Linked DNA regions of Homo sapiens. The protein of the gene in region 2 interacts with the protein of the main gene of each other region in a biochemical or structural test. Each region holds a gene or a part of one and is shown on either strand. Other genes may lie near its edges.

Region 1 (2,471 bases), on a different chromosome or scaffold from region 2:
GTCTGGATTTTCAAAGATTGTTGGCAGTTTCCTCCTCCCAACAGTTTTACCTCGGGATGGTTGGTTAGTGCATGTCACATGACATCCACATGCACATGTATTCTGTTGGCCAGCACGTTCTCCAGACTCTAGATGTTTAGATGAGGTTGAGCTATGATATGTGCTTGTGTGTATGTCTATGTGTATATATTATATATACATTAGACACACATATACATTATTTCTGTATATAGATGTCTGTGTATACATATGTATGTGTGAGTGTATGTATACACACACACACACACACACACACACACTTTTGCAAGAGTGATGGGAAAGACCCTAGGTGCTCATAACTAGAGTATGTGTATGTACTTACATGGGTGTTTTGATCTCTGTTCTTTCATACTACATTTGAACAGGGCAAAATGAACTAACTGCCATGTAGGCTAAGAAAGAAATGCTAACCTGTGGAAAGTTGGTTTTGTAAAATTCCATGGATCTTGCTGGAGAAGCATCCAAGGAACTTCATGCTTGATTTGACCACTGACAGCCTCCACCTTGAGCACTATTCTAAGGAGCAAATACCTTAGCTCCCTTGAGCTGGTTTTCTCTGATGGCACTTTTGAGCTCCTAAGCTGCCAGCCTTCCCTTCTTTTCCTGGGTGCTCAGGGCATGCTTATTAGCAGCTGGGTTGGTATGGAGTTGGCAGACAGGATGTTCAACTTAATGAAGAAATACAGCTAAGGCCTTGCCAGCAACACCTGCCGTAAGTTACTGGCTGAGTGAGGGCATAGAAGTTAAAGGTTACTGTTTTTATCCTCTATCCTTTTTTCCTTTCCTGATCAAGGTGCTCTTCTCATTTTTTCCTGAGAACCTTAGCCATCAGATGAGGCTCCTTAGTTTATTGTGGTTGGTTGTTTTTTCTTTATAATGGCTCTGGGCTATATGCCTATATTTATAAACCAGCAGCAGGGGAAAGATTATATTTTATAAGAGGGAACAAATTTTCACAATTTGAAAAGCCCACATAAGTTTTCTCTTTTAAGGTAGAATCTTGTTAATTTCATTCCAAACATCGGGGCTAACAGAGACTGGAGGCATTTCTTTTTAGGCTCTGAGACTAAATGAGAGGAAAAGAAAAGAAAAAAAAAATGATTGTCTAACCAATTGTGAGAATTACTGTTTGAAACTTTTCAAGGCACATTGAAATACTTGAAAACTTCTCATTTATGTTATTTATGATGTTATTTTGTACGTGTTATTATTATTATATTGTTTTATAAATGGAGGTACAGGATATCACCTGAATTATTAATGAATGCCCAGGAAGTAATTTTCTTCTCATTCTTCTAAAACTACTGCCTTTCAAAGTGCACACACACGCGTCCACATACACTGCATTCGTTGCTCCAGTATAAATTACATGCATGAGCACCTTTCTGGCTTTTAAGCCAATATAATGGGCTGCAAAATGAAGACACCAGAGTGTATGCATACAAATCTCACTGTATTAAAGATGCAGGTTTTCTAATTGTACCCTTCTTGTCTCTCTGGCAATCTTGCCCTTAATATCCCTGGAGTTCCTCATCAGTGTCATTTTCTGTTATACACAGTTCCACAATTTTGTCTCTAGTTGACTTCAAATGTGTAACTTTATTGGTCTTGCCCTATTATAATTGTCATGACTTTCAGATTGTATCTGAACTCACAGACTGCTGTCTTACTAATAGGTCTGGAAGGTCACGCTGAATGAGAAGTAAATTATTTTATGTAATACATTTTTGAGTGTGTTTTTCAGTTGTATTTCCCTGTTATTTCATCACTATTTCCAATGGTGAGCTTGCCTGCTCATGCTCCCTGGACAGAATACTCCTTCCTTTTGCATGCCTGTTTCTATCATGTGCTTGATAGGCCTCAAAGCTAATGCTTCCAGTGAAACACACGCATCTTAATAATAAGGGTAAATAAACGCTCCATATGAAACTATTTGCTTGGAAACACATTAATGATCCAGAGACATGCTATGAGAAACATCAGGGTGTAGGGTGACTTTAGAAAAATACTCATACTGAGTCTTTAATCCCTCCTGTGCCAGTGAACTCTGGGAAAGAAAGTACAAACTGAATATTGTTTATTCTTTAGTTCATGCCACTGCTCTGCTTGGCTCTACTCATAGAACCAAGGCAATCTTAGCTTCAGAGACTGCAAAACAGATTAAGTGATTTGCTTGCAGATTCTCAATCAATTTTCAAGGGATAGAGTTCACCTTCCAGAGCCATTCTTTTATTTCCAGTTACCCGCCTGTTTGAGAGATGATAGAGCAGTGGGAAATTGAGAGAGTTGAAAGGAGCTATAGATTCTTACCCAAACTTCAAAAATCCTTCCCTCCCTTTTGTTAATTCTCTTTCCTGGAAAAGAGGTCATAAAATGTTCACATCCTCAGTAATAGGCCCTGTGCTGTGTCTATTATGTCATGAGACTCCCAT
Region 2 (5,497 bases):
TACAGGCCCAGCCAGTCTTAGCCAGGCCCAGAATCTTCTGAGAAGCAGAAGGACCCTCAGGTCCCAGTGGGTCAGGGGCAGTTTTCCCTTCTCTGAAGCAGGTCCCAGTAGCCCCAGGCAGCCGTGGGAACTCCCAGTGCCCAGGGGACACTAACCTTCCTGGTCCCTGGCTATCAGGATCATCCACGAGGATGGCTACTCCGAGGAGGAATGCCGGCAGTACCGGGCGGTTGTCTACAGCAACACCATCCAGTCCATCATGGCCATTGTCAAAGCCATGGGCAACCTGCAGATCGACTTTGCCGACCCCTCCAGAGCGGTATGTGCCCTCCGCCCCACCCTCTCCCACCTCCCAAAAGGTTTCGGGGTGGCTGGTTGTGGTGGCTCATGCCTATAAATCCCAGCACTTTGGGACGCCGAGGCGGGTGGATCACCTGAGGTCAGGACCAGCCTGGCCAACTTGGTGAAACCGCGTCTCTACTAAAAATACAAAAATTAGCCGAGCATGGTGGCACGTGCCTGTAATCCCAGCTACTTGGGAGGCTGAAGCAGGAGAATTGCTTGAACCCGGGAGGCAGAGGATGCAGTGAGCCAAGATCGCCCCATTGCACTCTAGCCTTGGTGACAGAGCTAGACTCCGTCACAGAAAAAAGTAAACAACAACAACAAAAAGGTTTTAGGGCAAGTCTCATCCTAGGGAATCCAAGAATACCCTAGCCTGGGCCCCATTCCAGAGGTCTCCCTGCCTCTGGCAGAGTGGGGGTACATTCCTTCAACTGCCTGACCACCCGCCACTGTGCCCAGGACGACGCCAGGCAGCTATTTGCACTGTCCTGCACCGCCGAGGAGCAAGGCGTGCTCCCTGATGACCTGTCCGGCGTCATCCGGAGGCTCTGGGCTGACCATGGTGTGCAGGCCTGCTTTGGCCGCTCAAGGGAATACCAGCTCAACGACTCAGCTGCCTAGTGAGTGCTCTGAGGGGCTGGGCAGGGCAGGGCAGGGGCTGGGGGAGGACTAAAGGCTGGACCGGAGGGCCTGAGAACCCCCAGAAGGACACTGCTGGTCTTTGCTTATGAAACCGATGACTGTTAACCAAGGCCTTCCTGTTTTTTGGTTTGGGGGGTGGGTGGGTGTCACGTTACTGAAAGGCCAGGAGGAATGACAGGCAGGTGGCTTATACAGTACATCTCTTCCAGGCCAGTTGAGTCTGATCTGTCTTGACAGTCTTCTAAAGAACATTTGCGGCCGGGCGTGGTGGCTCACGCCTGTAATCCCAGCACTTTGGGAGGCTGAGACAGGCGGGTCGTGAGATCAGGAGATCGAGACCATCCTGGCTAACACGGTGAAACCCCGTCTCTACTAAAAATACAAAAAATTAGCCGGGCGTGGTGGAGGGCGCCTGTAGTCCCAGCTACTCAGGAGGCTGAGGCAGGAGAATGGCGTGAACCTGGGAGGTGGAGCTTGCAGTGAGCGGAGATTGCGCCACTGCACTCTAGCTTGGGTGACAGAGCAAGACTCAGAACATTTGCTGCCACCTGTTCTGTGCCAGGCTTCAAGGACACAGTGATGAGTGGAGCAAAGTCCCCATGCAGTGACAATTTAGGGTGTTAGTGAAAAGGTAGAGGTGGAGTTGGCCCAGAGACAGGATTGCTGAGCTCTGAAGGAGAGTCAGCCAGGGGAGGAGTGGATGAGGGGATTCCAGGCAGGGGCATAGCATGTGCAGCATCTCGGGGTGGTGGGGAGCTGGCTGTGCTTGAACATAGGCTGTGGAGGCTGGCTGGAGGGGGCCACAGGGGAGGAAGTTATCTGGGAGGTGACAGGTGTGTGTGTAGGTCAGAGCCCCTGGACCTCAGCTGTGACCCTCGCTGGCCCTAGGCTGAGGAATTACAAGGGGTCCCAGGAATCCCAGAGGCATGACAAGCCTGCACCCTTTCCACAGTTCTGAACTCCTTCCCTGTGGTATCTGTCATGTACTTGGACTGGTGCAGGGTGCTGAGGACCCCACGGGGAACAGGATAGACAGGCTAATAGCCATTGAGGATGGCTGCAGGGGACATCCACAGGCTTTGGATGGTGTCACCAGATAGGCTGCTGTCCCTGTACTCTAGCCTTCCCCTATCTCTGCTTAAGCCAGTCCCCTCTGACTGGAACACCCTTTTGCTCCTATTGTTCATCCAATCCTGAGCCTACCCATAGGGTGGATTTCAGCAAGGGTGGGTGGGAGGAGGAGGAGGGTCTTGCCTGGCTGTGATTCCTGAGCCCTGTCCAAGCCACATGAACAGCCTCCTCCTACCCTTCTTACATGGCCTGAATGCTCTTGTGAATATGTACCCCCTACAGGAGCTGTGGAGTCACAGCCAAATGCTGTGGGGGCCCCCAGGCCTCACCACTGCCCCTCCCTGAGATCTCTGGCCCAGCCACCAGCGAGCTTGGGGTCAGAGCAGCAGGGACCTTGGTGCCCATGATACTCAAAGGAAGCAGGAATAGAGCCACCTCCAGGCCACCTCCTGCTTCTCCATCATCCTCTTTCTCTATTCTCCAGACATTAGGCACCCACTGTGTGCCCAGCACAGTTTTGGGAGTGAATACAGGCCCTGTTCTCCCAGTCAGGTTTAAGCCTTGATAGCTCCCCCTGGGAATGGGTTGCGGATTGGAACACCACAGGAAGCAGGGCTCCTTCAGCCCCTCTTCGCAGCAACCCTCCAAGTGTGCAGCGAGTCAGGGGGTCCCTGGGGCGAACCCACCTGTTGGGGAAAAGGGAGAGGCTGGTGTGGAATGCACCATGGTACCTCCACATTGAGGACTCTGGCAGTAGGGGGCGGGGCATGGTATGCGGGTCACAGCACATGCGTCATCCTTCCCCATGGCCCTTCCTGTTTTTCTGTTTTGTCCCTGCTACTCTGAGATCATTTCCCTCTGGCCTGGTTTGGCCTGGGTGCTGGTGGGAGCCAAGGGCCAGCCCCAGCAGCCTTGCCCCAGGAATGAAAAGTCAGCTCTGGGCAGCAGCCTGGAGGCCTGGGACCAGCCTCCAGGGCATGGCAGGGATATTGAGGCAGGCAGCAGAGGCAGGCCCTGCAGGGGTAGCCTTGATACTAATTAAGGGAACTGGTAATGAGGAGCCCCTGGGACCCCTGCCAAGCAGGTGTCTGTGCCCTCCCCCTGAGGAACCCAGATTTCATTGGGCGCTGGGCAAAGAGCCCACTGGACCTGGCAGGCCCCAACCTGTCCAGCACCACATCGAGGGACCGCACCCGGCTGCTCTGCGGCTAATGCCGTAATTGCGCCCATTAGCATCCTGAATCCTTCACCGAAGGACTAATTTGCCTCCTCCCACCCTCTTTGCCTATAGCTCCAACATCCTGGATCCTGTCCGAGGCAGGTCTGGCTCAGACCCTGGGTGCTGGAGCTTGGCTGGCTAGCTGTCCACAGAGCTGCACCTCCTCCCATTCCCATTCTACAGGTGGGAGGCCGGGGGCTCTGAGTTCAGGTTTCTTCATTTGAGCAATGAGGTAATGCAGGCAGGGGTTAAAGAAACAAGGGCTGTGCCTAGGCCAGGCGCAGTGGCTCACGCCTGTAATCCCAGCACTCTGGGAGGCCGAGGTGGGCGGATCACCTGAGGTTGAGAGGTCAAGACCATCCTGGCCAACATGGTGAAACCCCGTCTCTACTAAAAATACAAAAATTAGCTGGGCGGCAGGCGCCTGTAGTCCCAGCTACTCAGGAGGCTGAGGCAGGAGAATCGCTTGAACCTGGCAGGCAGAGGTTGCAGTGAGCCAAGATCATGCCACTGCACTCCAGCCTGGCAACAGAGTAACACTCTGTCTCAAAAAAAAAAAAAAAAAAAAAAAAAAAAAGCAAGGGCTGTGCTTGAGAAATGGCATGGGAGGGAAGGGGCCTCTTGCAGCTGGCCCAGGGTCCAGCTAAGGAAGCCCCATGCTGGCCCCCACTGACCCTCCCACCCCCCATCCCCAGCTACCTGAACGACCTGGAGCGTATTGCACAGAGTGACTACATCCCCACACAGCAAGATGTGCTACGGACCCGCGTAAAGACCACGGGGATCGTGGAGACACACTTCACCTTCAAGGACCTACACTTCAAGTGAGCGAGCATGTGGACAGGTGGGAGGGGCAGGACCTGCCAGCCTCTGGGGTAGCAGAGGCAGGGGCTGGTCCAGGATCCCCCAGCCCCACTGAGGTTTTACAAGGCTCATGTGTTCTGGGCAAGCACATCCTCACCACCTAGTGAACCAGCAGTCAGGATCCACGCCACCTCTGCCAGCTGCTCACAGCCTCTGCTGCTCCTGCCTGATGTGGCTGCAGCCTGCCTGCTGTCCAAGCTCCTGGCCCAGAACCAGGGGTGAAGTGGGCAAGTGTGGATGATTCCAGAAGGTAGCTGCCCTACTCTGGGCAGGCCTCTGTCCTCAGTCAGCCAACCTGAGAAATGGGGTAGAAAGCCTCCCCCAGGCTCCCTTCCTGGAACTAAGGTGATCTATATCTGCAGGATGTTTGATGTGGGTGGTCAGCGGTCTGAGCGGAAGAAGTGGATCCACTGCTTTGAGGGCGTCACAGCCATCATCTTCTGCGTAGCCTTGAGCGCCTATGACTTGGTGCTAGCTGAGGACGAGGAGATGGTGAGAGGATGAGAGAATGCTGCGGGTGGGGGCAGCGGGCTTGGGGAGTGGTGGCTAGCGTTGACCTTGCTATTCTACCCCCAGAACCGCATGCATGAGAGCATGAAGCTATTCGATAGCATCTGCAACAACAAGTGGTTCACAGACACGTCCATCATCCTCTTCCTCAACAAGAAGGACCTGTTTGAGGAGAAGATCACACACAGTCCCCTGACCATCTGCTTCCCTGAGTACACAGGTGTGGGGACTGTGGGGATAGGGCCTCCAGAGGGTTGCTTCTTGTCCCAAGTAGCCTATGGTGACCAGGTGGCCCTCAGGCGCCCCCCACTGGACAGAAGTGTAACCTTGGAACACTGGCAGGGGCTGGTGCCTCACTTAGGCTTGTATAGTTGTGTGTGCACACATGAAGCCCTTAACACACTCAAGCATGTACCCCTGAACATGTGTACATGGGCATCCTCCTTCACACAGTGGGGTACCCCTTTGCACATCTGGCATGTATGGGCAGCCACAAACATTGTCATATTATGCACATGCATGCACAGGTTGTATGCCTGGCCGTCCACACGCACAGACCCTTGCTGCACACGTAGGATGCGGCCTGCCTGCCACACATGCAGCACAAGTCTTCATTTTCTCTCCCCCAGGGGCCAACAAATATGATGAGGCAGCCAGCTACATCCAGAGTAAGTTTGAGGACCTGAATAAGCGCAAAGACACCAAGGAGATCTACACGCACTTCACGTGCGCCACCGACACCAAGAACGTGCAGTTCGTGTTTGACGCCGTCACCGATGTCATCATCAAGAACAACCTGAAGGACTGCGGCCTCTTCTGAGGGGCAGCGGGGCCTGGCGGGATGGT

What was found.
Region 1: the proteins of GNAI2 (region 2) and RGS4 form a complex in vitro, tested with the Homo sapiens proteins (one study listed by BioGRID).

What each region holds. Positions count from the first base shown.
Region 1 is NC_000001.11:163,074,832-163,077,302, forward strand, and holds the end of RGS4 (regulator of G-protein signaling 4), read left to right. Parts: 3' UTR 1-1,971; downstream 1,972-2,471. UniProt on the Homo sapiens protein: Inhibits signal transduction by increasing the GTPase activity of G protein alpha subunits thereby driving them into their inactive GDP-bound form. Activity on G(z)-alpha is inhibited by phosphorylation of the G-protein.
Region 2 is NC_000003.12:50,252,220-50,257,716, forward strand, and holds part of GNAI2 (guanine nucleotide-binding protein G(i) subunit alpha-2), read left to right. Parts: intron 1-177; coding exon 178-319; intron 320-804; coding exon 805-965; intron 966-3,972; coding exon 3,973-4,101; intron 4,102-4,503; coding exon 4,504-4,633; intron 4,634-4,717; coding exon 4,718-4,871; intron 4,872-5,280; coding exon 5,281-5,471; 3' UTR 5,472-5,495; intron 5,496-5,497. UniProt on the Homo sapiens protein: Guanine nucleotide-binding proteins (G proteins) are involved as modulators or transducers in various transmembrane signaling systems.